2 separate regions of the Homo sapiens genome follow, and region 2 is linked to region 1. The links come from fine-mapping of genetic effects on gene expression. A gene starts in region 1. The other region holds a variant in brackets. All regions are shown on one strand. Distances are from middle to middle.

What was found. PIP is the estimated chance that this variant, and not a neighbour inherited with it, causes the effect. A credible set is the group of variants that fine-mapping cannot tell apart.
Region 2: its variant is the best candidate, but not a certain one, in a credible set for the expression of GABRB1 in left ventricle (GTEx, PIP 0.58).

What each region holds. Positions count from the first base shown.
Region 1 is chr4:47,024,888-47,035,246 of GRCh38, reverse strand. GABRB1 (gamma-aminobutyric acid type A receptor subunit beta1) reads right to left here and starts at 3,680. Exons shown (of 9, transcript NM_000812.4): 1 at 3,516-3,680; 2 at 3,242-3,333; 3 at 2,763-2,830. The coding sequence starts at 3,595.
Region 2 is chr4:46,989,552-46,999,910 of GRCh38, reverse strand. It overlaps GABRA4 (gamma-aminobutyric acid type A receptor subunit alpha4), which reads left to right and starts at 6,330. Exons shown (of 9, transcript NM_000809.4): 1 at 6,330-6,572; 2 at 6,965-7,083. The coding sequence starts at 6,487. It also overlaps a transcript of GABRB1 not described here. RefSeq lists an enhancer at 5,874-5,943 and a silencer at 6,105-6,399. The variant T/C (reference allele first, on the strand shown) is at 5,590.

The sequences.
Region 1 (10,359 bases):
TAGTCTGTAAAGCAGACAATGTGTAAACCAATCAGGGATTATATTTTACTTGGGGAAGCAATGGTAAAGAACAAAAATGAATGGAACCTAGTTCTCAAATCTACTAATTTAATGCACAATTATGTCATTTTCCCAGCCATGGAATGGGTAATAATGGTAATAAATAAAAACATAAATATAAGCAATGTTTTGGAAATTGATTCAACTTGCATTTTCTTAAAAACTATTTTTATGATATTATTGTCCATTCTCTTTGTTATATTCTTGTCATTTAATGTAGATGAAAATTTTCTATTAAATTACTCAAGTTACTGCCTATCAGGGCACCGAAACATGCTTAATACAAAAAGCAATAAGCAATAAGTCTTATTTTCCATGGACTTCCTACCCTATTTATATTAGCTAAATATCACAACATATAATAAACAATTCTCTTTTGGGGGTGCGGGCTAACCATCTGAGTTGTGTTTATACAGAACCCTCAATTTTAAAAACATTACTCTTTATTTCCATTTTTCTTGGAGTTATTTCCAATCTATTTATTTCAATGTTTTGTCATAGATGACAGAAGATAAAATAAACTTTGGGTTCTGTTGATAGTGCTCATTAAAAGGAGAAACAAGAAAGAACAAGTAAATCAAGGTTTATTATTTTTCAACTTTGAGTGGTTTCTATTTTCTAATCATGTCTGTAACATTGTTGTGGAAAGGTAATGGGGATTGTAGTAGAACAGGTATTTTCAAAGGCTTATCAGCTGGGTGAATACTTTTGAAAAATCAAGTGCATACACACGTGTTGCTGTGAGTAAACAGACTGTATTATTTAATCATTAGGAAGAAATGTCCAGTGGTATTTCAATTAAAGTCAATCCTTGTTCTGAGCTTATGTATGAATTCAGTTGAACAACTAATTATACAGAACTTTTTGTTACGGTGGTTGTTGATTGCAGCAACTTCCCTATTTAATTGAGTTTTAAAAAAAACTGAAAAGGGGTATGTCAATATAGCCAACAGAATTATATATTTTTTAAAATTCTGAAAAGCATGACACTCTACACGGCAAGGTAGAACAAAGGCTGCATTTGCTTTTTGAGCTTTTTAAATCTTCTATTTTATCAATTATCTGTGGATGCTTACAAGATACCAAAGGAAATGATTGAAAAGGAAAAATATTAACATTATTAATCTACATGATACAACTTGTTAAACTAATTCATTGTCTAATTTGTCCAGTTGCATTCGTGTAGATTAGGCACATATTATTACATTCCTCAGAGTGTTTCTAAATAATATGTTTTGGGTTACTTTGTGGTGTTAACATGTATGTAAACAGAATATAATAAGTCAGTTTGCCAAATGAGAAATATTCATTGTGTATTACGTTTTTAAAATTGAGTTTCTTTTTCCAGCACGACAATCAGAGACATTTACAAATAGTATTTTAAATACGTTATTTGAAGCAGGAGCCGCTACAACTACAAAATACAGAAATTAAATAGTCACACTTTTTATTCTATTCCTATTCAATAAGCTATAGACATATTTATTTCGACCCTAACATAACCTAAAAAGGAAAAGAAAAGAATTCTTAAACCATAGTATATTAAAATAAAACGACACAGTAGGAATGAAATGAAAGACAATTCAATAGCCTTTATAGCCATAGAGTGATACAATCTCAAATGGTTTTACTCTTTAAATTATTCAGGATTTATAAATTTCTGCCGCCATAACATTTTTTCACAAGTGGAATAAAAATGGCATTTTGCTCACGTAGATCTAGCTGTTCCCTGGGTGGTTGATTCTAGAAAAGCAACAGGCTTTTCCGTCTTACGAGAAGCAACAGTTAGAAACTCTAAGTAGAAAACTCCTACACACAGTGGACGGAACCAGCCAACAGAGAAAGTGGCAGCTATTTCAGTTCATTTTGCAATAGCTTCCAAAAAGAGAGGGAAGAAATATATAAAAGAATGTTGACCCCTTTGAAATGAAAGGACTGTGCTGTGTTACTGTCGCCCCCTCTCCCTTCCAACGTCCCTTAAATTATCAGGATTTTTAGGCATGCTTAGGTTTCTAGAGTAAGGTGAAGCAATATGACTTGATTTATTCTGTTTCAACTTAAATTTGCAAGATGCAGTAAGACAAATTCATAACCTCCCGCAAGAGAACAATACAAGCCTACCCAGGCTCGGGCACTTTTCCTACTAGCAAACATGGACTGTTGTCTTAGCCTGTTGCTCCTGCCACCAGGTGTGCCTGAACCTGGAGAGAGAGGACACTTTGAAACCCAGACTGTGCTCTCGGTGGCAGGGCCTTGGTGCATCCGGGCTCGCGGACTGCGAGGGCCATGGGGATTGCCAGCACCGCGCCTGGGGAGGTGATGGCTGCCGACCACCGGTCCGGGGACCCTAGTGCAGGCCGCCCGGCTGCCAGCAGATGGTGCCCTCCTCATCCAAACACGCAGGGAAACCCAGCTAAAGTAACGCTCAGACTCCGCCCCAGCAGATCCACGGCGCAACAGTCACTCGTCCTTCCCAAAATAGTGCCGAGCACGTTTCCCCTGGAACACCGCAGTAGCCCGTGTGTGTCGAAATTACAAACCAGGGGCGACCGGGTGTGTGTGCCGGAGCGGGGAGCGGGTGCGGAGTGGGACCTCAGGGGCCAGGGGCGAGGTGACCGCCAATGAAACGCAGAGGGCAAAGGGACCTGTCCATTTCCCATCTGCGTAAGCCGAACCGCCGGGCCCCTCGGGAGGCCACTCACCATATTCACTTCGGAGACCATGTCTATGCTGGCGACATCGATCCGCATCCCAACGTCGACGGGGGGCCCTGCCGGGGAGGTGGGCCACATTAGGAACAGATTCTCTCAGTGACAGCAGGCTGGGGAGGGTCTGGGGGCTTCCCAGCCCTTACTCCATTCTTAACGGGCTCCCTCCCTGCTCCCCCCACCACCCCTTTCAGGGGACTGCCTGGGAAAACAGGTGTGGGCACACGCGTGATGCAGTGACTATGCAGAGGGTGTGTCGGCCCGGGAGAAGGTCGCCTCCGCCTGAGGATTCATCCACCTGAGACTGGGGACCCGGGGTGTGTGTGTGTGTGTGTGTGTGTGTGTGTGTGCCCAGGGTATAGTGCACGCTTACGAAAATGACATGCCTTTTCTTTTTTTTTTTTTGACATTTATCTTTGACAGAAAAGGAGAACTAAGGATGGGTTACAGGTTGAAAAAAGATGAAGCGTTACCTCCGAAGTCCGGCCGCAAGCGAATGTCATATCCTTTGAGCAATCTGTCCACTGTCTCTTTCACGTATGACATGTTGCTGGGTTCATTGGTGCTAAGGGGAAGAAGTAGGGACCGTATTCAAAATGAGCACAAACTGTGAGCACATATAAAAAGATACAGGCACACCTACCCCCAAACAACAAGATACATGATCCAGCAGACACGTAAAAAGAAACATACCAAGAAAAAAAGAGAGAGAGAGAGAGAGAGCGAGATTCAACAACAGCAGCTCACCTGTGTGCACAACAGACCATGGTAATCATCACAGGGAAAGAGAGAAGCCCCAGACTCTCTCGATTTTGTACTGTCCACATTACTAACTCTGATTAAAAGAATTGTCTTTTCTGCGAAGATTCAAGGAATGCAACTTAGTCGGCTGCTGGGCAGTAATTCCCGAATGGACCTGCGCATGCGCAGAGCGCGCTCACTACCAAAAGACACCTTGTGCCTTGCAAACAATATTCCTAGTGGAACAGGCAACAGATTTCAATCCCTCTAAAGTTCCTATTTGGGGTGCTCCATGTCCTCCGGGTAGTCAGAGACAAGCTGCTGTTTCCACGCAGGGGATCCTACGAGCATGTGTAAACGGAGTTTCCTTCATGCATTGGAGGTTGCTATGTTGATTTCATTTCTGCCCTCAACCTGATTTTGTTTTTTTTACTGGGCGCTCAGTGATCTGGCTAAGGCTGCCTGTGATTGGCATCTTTCGTTGACAGTCAGGGAGGTCCTAGAACGGGGACTCTGGAGGAGGGTCTGTTGTTCTCTGGTTGCCTGTGGCGGGCACCGGGAGGATGTGATCAGCGGGGGTTGTGGGTGGGGGTGACTGGGAGCAGGGAAGAGTGGAGAGAGAGGGAACGGGAGAGTTACTAAAGGTACAGAGGAAACTCAGGACGTATTTGAGAACTCCAAAAATTAGGTGCCCTTGGGAGGCATCCTAGGACATCTGGCTTGGTGTAGACTTCTGTAGGAGGCAGAGTAGGAGGGGCAAGCCAACTTTTCTTCCACCCCACTTTTCTTCCCTCCCCTTGTCGTTTTTCATCCAGGTTGGGAAATGAGGGAAACAAAGGATCCAGCAGCAGTTCTGGGCAGGCAATCTTTTTTTCTAGGGCCATCCACTGCAAGCCCCACTTATCCTCCAGGTTGTGATAAGAAAAATCTCCTTCTTAAATTGACAGCATTTAAGGTGGTATTTGTGACCCCTAGCAGAACTCTGAAACATCCAGACAGTTTAACCTCTGTTCGCCAGTAGGTTGGGATTCTGCAGGAGCAAGTATTGTTTGAATTAAATCAAATTCAGTAACTTCGATTCTACAAATGTCATTGAGCACATGTTAGGCAGAAGGCCCTGGACTAGGTGTTTGTTCTTTTGTTAAATAGTATATATTAAATTTTGTTGTGGGCATTCTGGGACTTATAACTGATTCAAAAAGGGTTCTTGTCCTAGAGAAATTCACATCTAATGGGAGAGGGACACACACAAGTGTAAGTAAAGCGAATTGTAATCCCTACTCCTATTATAGTCTGCTGCTTACTTTTATGAGGGAAAGAGGAGACAGCTTAAAAATTAGCTTCTAACTAGGATGGAAGTGTCTCAAGGTCAAGAAACTTATGCATATTCTTAGTATTTCCCTACACAGGAGTTACCAAACAAAAAAACGTAATAGAAAAATTTATTCCATTACAATAATAACAAAAAATTCTAATGTACCTAGGAATAACTGGGGGAAAAATATGCACAAGAAGTTTAGAGTGAAGGTACATAACATTATTTAAATACACAAAATATGACCTAGATAAATGGAAAATGTACCATATGGGTAATTGGGAAGACTCAACATTGTAAGGATGTCAATTCTATCCAATGTAAGAAATATAACCAATTTGAATCAAAATTCCTACATTCTAAATGGAAATGAATAAACTAATTCCAAAATTCAAATAGAAGAATGAGGGGGTAAATAAAAGCCAAGAAAACCTGGAAGAAGAAGAAGAAAAAAAGAGAAGGAATATGGGGGCATTTGCCTTTGAGATATCAAGACATTATTGTGCTATATAGAAACTGAATCAGTTTGTCTTTGGCATGGAATTCATGTAGGGATAAAAAGCAAAATAGTACGAGCAAATAGAGAGCACAGAAATACTCCTCTATTTTAAGAGAAGTAGGAAAAGATGAGCTACTCAATAAATGTTGCAAGACAATTTATTATCCATAAGGGAAAAAAGTAGATCTTTACATCATTACATACATGAAAATATATTACAGGTAGATACGTAACTTTAATACAAAAAACAAAACTTTCAAAACTTTAAACTATATAGGAGAATATCTTTATGACTGTGATAAAAGGAAAGATCTAAAGATGAACAAAGTTATAAATGATAAAAAAGATTATTGCGATAACTATGTTAAAATGTAACCTTCTTTAAATCCAAAGCTTCTTCTGAAAAGTCAAGTTATACATAGAAAGAACATGTTTTCAGCAAATTTAACCATCAGAAGGTTTGTATAAAGAAATTACCAGAAAAAAAAACTTCCAGAAGTAAATAAGAAAAGATCAAAAGCCACTCTAAATAAGGAATTGCAAATTAAAGGAATTGTACACTATTTTAAACTCATGAGATATGCAAAACTTAAGAATATTAAAAATTGGCTTTTAAAACTCCATATATTTTCAGTAGACATATAAATTGATCTAAACACTTTGTACCACTCTTTGGACATACTAGTAAAGTCAAAGATGCCCATGCTCTTTGGCCCAGAATTGCTACCACTCAGAATATACCCTAGTGATAAACTCATGCAGTCTAAGAATATTTATGGCAGTGTTGTTTTTAGTAGTGCAAAACTGGCAACAATTTTTATTAATTGGAAATAAATAGGAATATAATCACACAATGTAATACAACAGTCAAAATAGTTGAATGTCTACATGCTTCTACACTGACAAATCCCAGAAGTAAAACACTGAGCAAAAACGAAACAAGAGCAAGGTGCAGAATGATATAATGAGCCATGATAACATAAATTTTAAAATATTTAAGTGTAAAACCCAAAAGATATATTATGTACATATACACCATATATATATATATGGTATATATACCATATATACACATATACACCATATATATGTATATATACCATATATACATATATATACACATATATACACATATACATATATATGGTGTATATGTATGTGTCGGGGTGTGTGTTTGTGTGTGTATGTATATATATACACATACACAGAATAGAGAACAAAAATAAGAAGGATACCACACTTTAAGGTTCAAATGAATCTACAATATTTTATCAAAAAAATTTCATTCCAATTAGCCACAACATGATATGTGGGTGTTCATCATTCTACTCTCCATATATTTCTAGATATTTGAAATATTTTACAAAAAGCTGATCAAAACTGATAACGAAGTGACCAATTAGGAGATACATTTGCAATTTATATTTTAAAATGTTTATGCCAATCAATGAGAGAAATAAATGTCTAATAAATAATGAGCAAACAATTGTAACAAGCATTTCACCAAAGAATCTCTAATATTTGATAGCAGAGTAGGGTGACTGTAGTCAGTAACTTAATTGTACATTTTAAAATAACATAAACAGTGTATTTGGATTGTTTGTAATTTCAAGGATAAGTGCTTAAGGGGATGGATACCTCATTCTTTATGATGTGCTTATTTCACGTAACATATCTATATCAAAACATCTCATGTACCCCATAAACATACACACCTAGTATGTACCTGCAAAACTTTTTAAAAAATAGAAAATATTTAAAAAAATAATTAAGTGACCAATAAATATATTGTAAAGTTTCAAGCTCAGTAGTAATCAAATGAATACAATTTTTAAAATAGATATGAAGTACCATTTTCACTTGTTGGTTTGCTAGTTTAAAATGGTTTAACCTTAAGTATCATGGAAGCTGTGGAAAAATACAATTTCATATACTTTGGGGACAGTATAAATTGCCACAATTTATTTTAAGGATGATTTGTAATACTAATAGTAATATAATATGTTATTGGATGCATGTATTGGTGGCATTTGCCTTCTGTTCAATTGATCAGTTTTTCTGATTTAACCTAATATGATATAATTTTATTATAATCACTCATTGTTAGAAAAGTATGAATTTTGATAAGGCAGCAACACCATTATTGCTTTTCAAGATATTTACATATCCTTTGTTATGTTTACATACTTTATTTTCTAGCTTAAGTATAGCATTAATTTAATACAATCTAAAAATCTCATGTTATTTTTATATTGCATTAAATATTCTAATTAACTTAAGAAGTCATTTTAACCTGTGTTAATAGGAATGGCACCACTTCACTTTTTGCATATCAATTTATCCTCTAGTGATATATTATTTTCTTTAAAAAAAAATTCTTGTGTTTCAGGTTATATTAATAGCCAGCTATTTAATATACTTTAGCTATATGAAAATGCATTTTTCACTTTGCATTTTTCAGCTCTTCTTATTTATATATTATAGCATGGACCTTTGAGGATAAAACTTGTATCATGTAATAAGCCAAGTATATTTTTACCTCTTTTTATTTTTACTTCCTGTTATGTAACAATTTTCATATTATATTTAAAAATTCATATTGCAATTTTTTCTGGGTTTATTCTTTTTGGAATGTCTTCTCAAATTATTATTTATGATATTTTTACTGTTTGATAAATTGTGGTGATAATAAGGATATTCATTGCTCCTTTCAGGTATAATTCTAGCCAAATAAATATGATATTTTGTTTCAAAATGTACGCTCTATCTTACTAATAAAGAGATGTTCTAAGCCATTACTTTTATTAAAATGTTACCATTGCATTAATAAGTATAGTTAACATTTTAATAGGCTTATTATTTATCAGCACTATTTTAAACACTTGACATATCTAGTGTTCATAATATCTTAAGAGGTAGGGATATATAATTAGTTCTGTTTTAAAGATGAAGACACTTAAACACAGAAAGTAACTTATCCAAGGTCAAACAAAAAATGAGAGACAAAATTCAAATTCAAATAGTCTAATGACAGTTTACATTCTTTTCTAGTACGTTATTAATTATGAAAAATGTTGCCAGCATAAAATATATTTTAACCTCTACTGAGATAATTAAATGCTTTTGCAACTTCTCCTGTATAATTAAATGCATTTAGGGTTTAACATATGTTATTAGTGATTTATATTTTAGAAGAAGCCCAAATTACGTAAAGAATTTGTATTTGAGTACAGAAGACCATGCTATCCAAGTAGAATCTTATGAAGGATACTCTGCAAATCCTGATTTGCAGTGTTGTGCCCTCTAGTTGGTCCCTGTAATGCTGTGGGTCAGGAAAAGTCACAGAGAATGAGGACTATTAAGCCTGTTACCGGTAATATATTGTTTGTAGAGCATCATTTAAAAAGTGTTGCCATTTATATCTGTGTTAATGTGTTTTTACATATTTTATAGTAAAATAGATTTTACTGTTTACTGTTGTTGTTTAGTAGAAACTATAATTTTTATCTTCTTTTATAAAATAAATATTTAGTGCCTGATATTAACTGGAGAACAAAACAAACAACCCGGTGATTATCTGGTGAACACTTTCCAGCTGAACATATAAACTTTGCGCTAATTCATTTATTCGTGAGTGTATTTAAAAACATTTTTAGAACTATGCAACAATAAGTGATACAAACTGTTGGGGCAAGGGCACCCAAATCACCAATATATAATAAAAAATGCTAGAAACGTGAAAAGGACTTTTTATTTATTTATTTATTTATTTTTACACTAAGGTCTCACTATGTTGCCTAAGCTGATCTCAAACTTCCTGAATTCAAGAGATCCTCCCACCTCGGCCTTCAGAGTAGCTGCCATTGCGGCCAGCAAAAACATTTTTTCTTGCCTTGGAATATCAGGGAAGACACCTCAATAGAGTTGAAACTTTCTGCTAGATCTTGAAATTCACCAAGTTGAGAATTTGGGAGGAGTTAGAACAGGTGGAAAGCACAAGTAAAGGCTTTGAGTTTTAAAGTTGATGGCATTACAAAAAAAACGGAAGTAGTAAAGGCAGAATTGAACAAAATTATGTTTGCAGTGGTGAGAGGAGAGGGGATAATGAGAAGAGGATAGGAATGGAGTAAGATGGTGAGAGGTATGTTTCCAATTTATAGCTAAGCAAGACAAGATTAGCAAAAGAAATCTGGGGATTTGTTTGGGAAAAAAACTTCTTTTACTCTGCCTCATGTTAAATACATATTCTTCATTAATTAACTGAGATAAGAACATTGCTAATCTGTCATTTTTATTTTGTTGTCATTAAAATTATTTTAAGATAGATTTAAAGAAAAATTTAGAAAAACCTGGACTGAGAATATGACATAGTGACAGTAATTAATTAAGAAATAATCTAATTACTTTCTGTGGAAAAAAAATTCAAGTTTATAAAACTATCCTCTCCCTGAAATGCAAATCGAAATCACAATACAATACCGCCTTACTCCTGCAAGAATGGCCATAATCAAAAAATAATAGATATTGGCATGGATGCAGAAAAGGGAACACTTCTACACTGCTGGTGGGAATGTAAACTAGTACAACCACTATGGAAAACAGTGTGGCGATTCCTAAAAGAACTAAAATAGAACTACCATTTGATCAAGTAATCCCACTACTGGGTATTTACCCAGAGGAAAATAAATCAGTATATGAAAAAGATACTTGCACACGCATGTTTATAGAAGCACAATTTGCAATTCCAAAAATGTGGAGCCAACCCAAATACGCATCAATCAATGAGTGGATAAAAAAATTGTGAGATACATATATATATGATATATATATGTGATATATGTGATATATATGCTATATATATGGATTTATGAAATTGAAATGTAATTGTAAATTTTAAAATGAAATTCCACAAATGGGTTGAATGGCACAGTAGAAGATTTTATTAGTTAGCTAGATAATAAAAACAAATAACATATATATATATATATATGATGGAATACTACCCAGCCATAAAAAGGAATGAATTAATGGCATTC
Region 2 (10,359 bases), 35 kb after region 1:
TGGGCATGCACAGTTATCTCTTCATGCCTCCTCATGGGTCCCATGTGCAAATTTGGGAGGAGTTAGTATGAAACATGCAGTGAATATTCAGGCTGTGATGTCAGCATGTCTGTTCTCTGCAAAGTCTATTTCAACAGTCATATTGGCATTAATCCATTTTAGCTAGTTTTGTTATCTTATAAGCAGAAGGAGTTTTAGCACTGTTTCTTTTTTTATTTGTTATCTTGTAAACTAAACAATTTCTGTCAGTCACTGGTCTCTTCAGCTCTTTGGAGAATGATTTCTTTGTTTTGCCTCTTGCTTCTTTTGTATACATTTACTCCTGATATATTTATATTGAAACATATATCTTATTTCCTTATTTTAATTGTTGTCTAGTTCTCTCTTTACACCACAATGTAATGTATCCACTTCCCTGTTAAATGACATTTAATTTGTTTCTAAGTTTCCACTATTACAAACAACGTAACATATTTTAGATGTCTCCTCATGAACATGTTTGAGAGTTTCTTGGAGCTATAAAATTTAAATTAGATGGTTTGGTCATATGGTATGAATATGTTAAACTTAAATATATTGGCAAACTGCTTTCCAAAGTGGTTCTATTAGTCCCTTATCAGTCTTGAAACAAGACATGACATTATATTCATCATAAAATAGGCACTTGGCAACAAATTTAACAATGTTTAAATGGCCATCAAATGAATCATACCTCCAGTATTTACATCTTTGTGTATCCCCTCTAAATAAACTATATGGGTTAATTTGGGGCACTATCGGTAATGCATAAATTATCCTTGCAAACCATTACTATTAGGTGCTGAAAATAAATGTGTTTCTTAACAATAGTATCATCTTTTTCAGAAACTAAAAATTCGCACATACCATACATATACACTAACATAATTAAAGGAATGTTTCTTGTAGTAATTAGTACAGAGTACTAATTACACACGATCACACACACCATCTCACACACACAATCACTGCTCTTTGGAGTAGCACTTCTAAACTTATTCTGAGAGCTTATTTCAGAATTCAAGTCTGATGAATAAAATAATGCTTCACACATTATTAGGCATTTTCAATTGAGCCTAAAAGTAGTTATTAAATGTATTACTTGGATTGTATCCCCTTAAATTGTATTCTTTCCACTTTTTTTTTTTTTTTTTTTTTTTAGACAGAGTCTTGCTCAGTGGCCCAGGCTGCAGTGCAGTGGCACAATCTCAGCTCACTGCAAGCTCCGCCTCCCGGGTTCACTCCATTCTCCTGCCTCAGCCTCCCGAGTAGCTGGGACTACAGGCTCCTGCCACCACGCCTGGCTAATTTTTTTGTATTTTTAGTAGAGACGGGGTTTCGGCATGTTAGCCAGGGTGGTCTCCATCTCCTGACCTTCGTGATCCACCCACCTCGGCCTCCCAAAGTGCTGGGATTACACACGTGAGCTACCATGCCTGGCTGGCCTCCACCTATTTTAAAACTTCAGACTTTCAAACAAAACAAAAGCTAATATTGAATAACTAATATTTCTGAATGTAATTCAAATTAATGTGAGATCTTGGAGACTATTAAATATTGATACATTGTCTTAATGTCCAACTTGATCTCAGAAAATTATAAAAAAATAATTAATAATCTAAAATACATACTATAATAGGTGACTTTCCAAATTTCATGTGTAAAGTTTATTCAGATAATAGTATTGTCACAATTTTGTTTTTTTCAAATAATTGCACTGAAATATCTAAATCTGCATTAACTATATGGCAAAAAATTCTTATTTTGACAGCAGTATTAACTGGTATTATGAAATGTTTACTCAAATACAATATGTTAAATTCCCCCAGATTAGGAAACCCTTGTACACTGTTGGTGGGAATGTAAGCTGGTACAGCTATTGTGGAAACGATATGGAGGTTCCTCAAAAAACTAAACATAGCACCATCAGATGACCTAGCAATCCCTCTTCTGAACATACACCCAAAGGAAATAAAATCAGCATCTTGTAGAGATATCTGAGCTCTAATGTTTATTGCAGCATTATTCATAATAGTCAAGATATGGATACAACCTATGTGTGTCCATCAGTGGATGAATGAATAAAGAAACTGTTATATGTATATGTGTATATGTGTATGTGTGCATATATATGTGTGTGTATATATATACGTGTGTGCATACATATATATACACACACATCTATATGTACAGCTTTGTAAAAGAAGGGATACTGCCATTTGCAACAACATGGATGAACCTGGAGGACATATAGTAAGTGAAATAGACCAGACACAGATAGCACAGAAAAATAAATATGAAATGATCTCACTTATTTGTGGAATCTATAAATAGTCAAGTACATAGAAACTGAGAGTAGAATGGTAGTTACCAAAGGAGGGATGGTAGGGGGGAATTTAGGAGATACAGCTTGAAGCGTACGAAGTTATAGTTATGTATAAGAAAGTTATTATTATTATATATTATATAATAATATGTTATGTATAATAAGATCTAATGTACAACATGAGGCCACAGTTAATAATATTTCATTGCACACTGAACAGTAATTTGCTAAGAGAGTAGATTTTAGGTACTCGATCCTCACACACAAAAAGGTAACTATGTAAGGTGGTGGATATGTTAATTTGACTGTAAAAGTCATTTTGCTATATATTTATATCAAAACATCTTGTTGTATACCTCAAATACATACAATAAGAAATGAGTGAAGATAAAAAGTCTATAACTAGACAATGATAGTAGGCTGGTATACAGGTAATATTTCAGTGGAAACACTGTTTTAATACAAATGAGAAAAGGCATTAACTAAGAGACTATTAAATCAATTCTTCCCACCTATGCAAAATACGAGGGACAGAGAAATACATTAACATAAAATTGTCAATAGCTTCTAAATTCTTGGAACAGGAGCATTTCAAACTGGGCCTATATCTACAAGCCTTCAGAATTTAAAGCAGTAATTCACATCAGTACCCTCCTCAAATGGTTACAATTGGTTCAATTTTTACCAGAAAGAATTAATGAAAGAAAAGAGGAACAGGTTGAATCCTTTCAGATTATTTAATTTATTACCACTCAAATATTTTGCATACCAAGCTCTTTGGACATATGATAAATTGACAATAGATGGGACCAAGTACCTGCAAGAGACTTACAATCTACATGACAGTCTATAGAAACTGGCAATGGGGAAGCTTATAAAATGGGATAGAGATTTTTATCACACATTAACTACAAATATTCATTCGCCTGTTTGGTCAAATGTTCTAATATTTGAGTTATCTTTTATATTAAAATGTTGGTCCATACTACAGTTGTCCATGGCCTATAAGAACTTGATGAGAGATAAAGTCTCACAGGAAAATGCACATACTTACATAAACACAAGATTTTGTGTTCATTTCCAGGGCATTTCATAGGCACTGTGGGCTTTAAAGTGTCCATCCTAAGACGTTAGCAGTTGGGTTATCTGTATTATTTGCATCTTATTATATCCAAAGTAAACTCATTTGTTAAATTTATAAAATGTGACTGGCTTAATATAATGATATTTGGGGATAGTGTACTTGGGCCCAATTCAAATTCTGCTAAACCTAGTAATCAGAGGCTTATATCAACTTAAAGAAAAAAAGAGGTATAGGTATGATTTTAACACCTTCCTATTTCTGCACAGCTACACAGACAATAATAATAATTCACTGACAATCCTGGGCTATCACAAATAGGAGTTTACATGGGAAACAATAGCATATTTATATTCATAAGTTAAAGTAAATTATAACTTTTCAGAATGTTAGATTTCTAAAAAAAAAAAAAAAACCTCAAGTTAGCAGGCAATATTTTTTTAAAGATTTCAGGCAGTGAAATTCAACATATATCTTCTTGAAGTAATACAAAAGTGGCATAAATAAAAGACTGTGAAATAAAATGAGAAGAGATATAAATGCCTTTAGTATTATCTTCAGCTGAACTTAAATACTATAACCCAATTAACAAAAATATAACTGGAAGTAGCTACTCTGAAAGAATGTTCTTTTAATTTGAATATAATAGTTTCACAGATTTTAAGTTTGAATTTTAAAGATACGATATGTAACTGTTTCCCCAAAGCCATTATTTTGGTTTCTTAATTTTTTGATATGTGTATTTTTAAAATGAAAATTGCAAGGGAAAGTGGTTTAGAAAATACAAATTTAGGTTTTAGAAAGTATAGGAAAAGGCTTACAAATGTAAGGCGGTGGCTTACATCTGTCATACCAGCACTTTGGGAGACAGAGGCAGGAGGATCACTTGAGACCAGGAGTTTGAGGGTAGCCTGGTGACATCGCAGAGCCCCCACATCTCTACAAAAATATAAAAATATATTAACAGAGCATGGTGACACATACCTGTACTTCCAACTACTTAGAAGGCTGAGGTAGAAGGATTGCTTGAGCCCAAAAGGTAGAGGCTGCAGTCACTATGATGGTACCACTGCTCTCCAGCCTGGGCAACAGAGCTAAATTCTCTTTTTAAAAAGGTAGGAAAGTATTAAGATTAGAGAAATAATATAATATGTGGAGAATCTGTGGTGACTAATGCTTTCATGGCATATTTGGAGGATACACTAGTTCTTCCGCTATTTTTCCCAAACGAGAGAGCTTGATAGTCATCCACATTTATAAGATGGATCTGAGAACAAGCAATTCATTGCTTTGTTTAATTGTTCATTCAATAAATATTTATTGACATTCTATGTGCCATGCACTGTAACAGCAGATAAAATAAACACAGATGAGCAAAAATTACCTAGCCCAGGCCCTCAGAGAGACCACAGTCTATGAGAAAAGAATGATAGAGATGGGATTAGGATGAAGTTAACAAATTCCATGAAGAAAGCAGTACAGAATACAGAGCACGGAGCTCTAGCTACTGCCCACGATGAGCACTTTGGGCTTTCCCTTAGAAAGAAAACTTGAATCCAGACGTTTAAAACACACAAAAAAACCAAAACCCCTGTCTAATACAATGCGTTCCCTCTTCATACCCGTCCACTAGTCATCTCAATTTGAACAAATCATCAGAGTTCCGACTAGAACCTAATTGGTGTTTGGTTCCAAGGTATGGGAATTACTTAGCTCATTGATCCATCATATGAAAATTTCCACATGCATCATTACTAATTTGAAAGACGCTTTTCCCCCTTGGAGCCAATAATTAATGTTTCCAAAGATCTATTGGGAATGCTTATCTTTGCTCAGTAAAACAGTAAAGATATGGAGCTTAGTGTTCCCTTTCATGTCACAAGGGAACTAATATTTGTCCCCCTCCATTTTAATTTATGTATCCTTTCTCTCCATACCCCACCTTCTGCCTCTCTCTCTCTCTCTCTCTCTGTCTCTCTCTGTCTCTCTCTCTCTCTCTCTCACACACACACACACACACACATTTTCTCTTTCCCCCCCCACTCTCTCTCCAGCCGTCCTTTCCCCCTACCTAAAGCAGTCAACCTCTGGAAGTAAGTCAACTCCATTCTGAAAAAGAAGAGTGTCGCAAGAAGTGAAAGTGATTTTGACCAGAGGTCGCTTG[T/C]CTCCACCTCTCCCCTCCTCTCCAGAAAAGGATGGAGCAGCAAAGCGGAGGGTGTGCGCGTGTCTGGTGGAGGCGGGTAAAGAAATGGGGTGTCTTTAAAGCAATAGCTTAGCAAATACTGGGACTAGAGTGCGGCTCGAGTCCACTTCCCAATAGTTTGGCGAGAGTCCGCCGGGTGAGCTGCAACCCCTGTTACCAGGAAGAATCTTTCTGCTTTCATTGCTCTCCCTACCGCCCCCCATAACACCTGAATGGGAGGGTCTCAAAGGTGGTTTGAGCCCGGACTTGATCCCCTCTCCTCACCACCGCTACCACCCGACGCCCAGCAGTCCCCGTCACCCGCCCTTTCTCCACCTCCAACCTTGACTCTGGGTACAAACAGGTCCTCGCACAACCTGATGACAGAGGAGCTTCATTGGTTAGATCCAAATCCCAGCGGAAGGGAGGGGGCCAGGAGGTAGGAGGACGAACACTGCTGTGGGCGGGGAGCCCACTTGGGGTCGGGGGCTGCGAAGCCGGAGGAGGGGCGAGAGACCCCGTTCCTCATCCCCGGAGTTACAGTCGGAACAAACTTGCCGAGTCTTGCAGCGCAAGCGCGCGGATACGAACCCCAGAACCTTCAGCGCGCGGGCACGAAAGGGTGTGGAGCGGTATACATAGCTCTACATACACATTGAGCGCTGAGCGAGAAAGGAGGGGGCGAGGAAGGCAGGTTCCGCCTCCCCTGGCCCCGTGCACACACACGCCCACCGCGGCTCGGGCTGGCTGAGCGCGGGCGAGTGTGAGCGCGAGTGTGCGCACGCCGCGGGAGCCTCTCTGCCCTCTCCTCGCACCCTGCTCAGGGCATCTGAAGAGCCTGGAAACGTGAACAGGCTTGAAGTATGGCATGTTGCAAAGATGGTTTCTGCCAAGAAGGTACCCGCGATCGCTCTGTCCGCCGGGGTCAGTTTCGCCCTCCTGCGCTTCCTGTGCCTGGCGGTTTGGTGAGTTCTCTGGGGTGCGAGGAGGTGGGCAACGGAAAGTGGAGAAATGGCTAGCTCCGGGACCCCTTTGGCCACTCGCTCCTCCCTGGGTGGACTAGGTCTTCTTATCTCAGCTGTAAGAGCAGGGGCCGAAGCCAGGCTTTTCTGTGACCGCATAGATGCGGAGAGCACCAAGGGCGCAGGATCCAAGAGGCGTGTGGGCACTGGGGGTCTTGCGGCGGGGCGCGCTTTTCCTGACCATTTCTGTCTTCTGCATCCCAACCCCCAACCTCCTCTCCTTTAGCTTGGGGCAAGCGACTCTTTCCCTAGAAAACAAACCTGTTTGCACCTGTTCTCTGATGGATTCTTAAAATAATCTCCTCCGCCCCCGGTTTTTTTTTTTTCGCTTGCAGTTTAAACGAATCCCCAGGACAGAACCAAAAGGAGGAGAAATTGTGCACAGAAAATTTCACCCGCATCCTGGACAGTTTGCTCGATGGTTATGACAACAGGCTGCGTCCTGGATTTGGGGGTATGAACGATTTCAAACGCGCAAGTGTGTCCTGTCTGTCCCTCTCTTGGTCTTCCTGTCTGTCTGTCTGTGGGAATATCATTAGGTATGCCTCACGTGCAAAAATAAATCTCTCTCTCTTTCTATCTCTCCTCTCTTGGTGAGACCTATGACAAGAAGACCGCCTCCACCCGTACTTTCCCATCTCCCTGCCCCCTCAGAAGCTTTGCCTCTCCCCCACACTAATTACCTCCCGGGACCTGACTGCTGGGTGGGGGAGGTTGGAGAGGAAGAGTCAAAAATGGGAACTCTGGGCTCAGCTGCCTGGACGCTCTTCGCTGAGAATAGTTTCCCTGAACCTGGCCACTTCGCTCAGAGCAGGTTGCATTGGAGGCAGCTGAACCGAAGTCCCTCATCCTCCCACGTGTCCATGCCTATGCCAAAACCTTGGCCAATGTTCTACCTGGGACATAAATCTGGGGCATGAAGCTGCCTGCTCTGCTAGAGAACCCAGTCCTTTCCTTTTCTCTTCTACAGCAGGATGCTTTTCTTTTTTCCCTTTCTTTTTTGGTGATGTGTCATTTGCTTTCCTCCTAAGACTTTAAAGTTAGAGATGTTCCAGCTTGCTTTCTTCAACAAAATAAGTATAAAGGACTTAATAGAGGTACATCCATTAACAGCACTGTTGCTGTTTTTCATATTCATATTTCCTTTGCATATATAATGGAAATCTATGTGGCAAGCTTTGCGCTAGGTACTAGGTCCACAGAAATATTAAGATACAATTCTTAACCTCAAACAGCTTCTCAGTCCAGTTCAACGAGGACAAATGACTTGCTAGGGTCCCATTCATAGGTTTGGCCCAGGTCCTTTGATCTCAAAGTCCCTGTTTTTTACAGTACACTGCACTAATTACCCTTCAGCAACTGAGTTGAACAGGATAGAGATTCTGCCTTAAAGGAGCTTACATTCAAGTGGTAACAATAATAACAGCCAGTAATATTGTATTTATTTAATTAAATGTTCACATATACCAGGCATTTTGTAGGCATCACCACTCTGTTTAACCCTCACAACAAAGCTTTGAAAGCCATTACCATCCCCACTTTACAGATAAGGAAATTGAGTCCAAGTTCCAAGTTAGTAAGTAGGAGGAGAAGGATGTAAACCCAGAGCAGGCTGTGTATTTAAAAGACAAAGCCGTGCAGATGGGGATGGTATCAGATGCTGTGTGATGAGTATCATCTAATATTAGAAGCATGGAGCAACTTTATACCTCCTATTGAGGGTGTGTAGGAGATGACATGTTGGGAGAATGGAGAAAGTAAGAATGGGGAGCAGGACTGCCTGTGATGTGAAGTAGGAGTATGGCCTGGGGCTAGAAACTCTTTCTAGCCTTCACTTGAAATGTCAAGTTTAAAACCTTTATGGGCAGATAAAGTAGAGTTGGGTGTTTCTTTGGCATCTGGTCTCATTTAACAGATGGGGACACTGAGGTTTAGAAAGGGAAAGTGATGTATATAAGGGCACATAGTACATCAATGATAGGATGAGATCAGGTCTTCTGAATTCCAAACCATTATTTTCTTGGATTTTATGAGAAGGTTATGGGAAGTCATTGAGGGTATTGATTCAGCATTTGTATATTTCTTTTTTTTTCTTTGAGATGGAGTCTCGCTCTGTCACTCAGGCTGGAGTGCAATGGCGTGATCTCGGCTCACTGCAACCCCTGGCTCCCAGGTTCAAGTGATTCTCCTGCCTCAGCCCCCAGAGTAGCTGGGATTACAGGTGCAAGCCACCACACCTGGCTAATTTTTTTAAATATATTTTTTGGTAGAGATGGGGTTTCACCATGTTGGCCAGGCTGGTCTCGAACTCCTGACCTCAAGTGATCCACCCTTCTTGGCCTCCCAAAGTGCTGGGATTATAGGCGTGAGCCGCGCCGGGCCAGCATTTGTATATTGACTGATAAGGATAGATGAGAAGGATGAAACTTTCTCCTGCTTCTTTTCATGTTGCCTCTCCAGGGATAGGTTGCCTACACTGCATTTGCCTTCATGCAAATCTGAAAAGGGGTGAATCATTTGTCAATGCATGATCTTCCATTTTAGATCAAAAATAGTGTTGTGGAGAATCGTTCAGATGATGTGATACCATTTAAGGCAATATTATATCAATAAAAGAGGATTTATCTGCCCATAAATGTTTTAAACTTGACATTTCAAGTGAAGAAAAAAAATAAGAAAAGTATCCAGTCCTATGTAGTTTAAATATTCATCAGAAAATTGATATACCAAAACATAAATCAAAGTGAAAAGTTAGAACTGAAACTATATTGTTTGATTATAAATGTTGAAAGTTAAAATAAGATGTGCCCAGCTGGCTATAATGCAAGCTGTAATTCAAAAGGAAGAAGGGATCCATTGTATATGGATCCTTTTTACCATCTACTCTCTCCCATTGCATAATATTGACAATAACATAAGTGAAAACAATATATGTGAGCCATTACTGGGTTTTGGTTAATCGTAATTCTATTAAACGTCTCAAGGACATTATTAGTCATCTAATTTGTCACTGCCAAATGATCTGCATTACCCACCTGAAAACATTTTTATAGTTTTATGGGAAAGGGTCGAATTAACATTACTCCCAGCATTACCAATTGATTAACCATTTAAACATTTACTAAATAGCATAATATGGGTTTTGTTTGTTTGTTTGTTTGTTTCTTGGCTTTGCTGATAAATGTTTGTGGTAAATGTGATTCACTTTTTAGAAGTGGGTCATTCTCTGTAAATGTGTAGTATTCCAAATGTGACAGAGAAATAGTGATTCTCACCTGCAGAAAATGTGTTTTCTGTTTATATGAAGTTGTAAATGTGTACCACTGAAAACAATGAGAAACTTCATCATTAGCACAGACTCTTAGATACCACAAATCAGATGCCTTCTATAGTATTGGATACTCTGTGGAAAGTTTGGTATTTTAAAAATAAAATGAAAACAATCCAGATTTTGACTAGTAGGCTATAAATATGGATTTACTTCCTGGTTCCTATAATCCTGCTTCTGCTCTTCGTGGGGCATTTACTTTATATCTGTTTATACAACTTTGCTGTGTTCCATTTCAAACAAAGCTAAAAGCAAAGATTTGAATTGAAATTGGATGGTTTGTGATTGCTCAGTAGGCCAGGCAGGGGTTGAAATAGATTTGGAAACTAAATTACATATTTTTAACTCAGCAGCACAGCTTGCGATAGGGAAATAAAAGGAACTGAAATGGTTTCCTTTTTT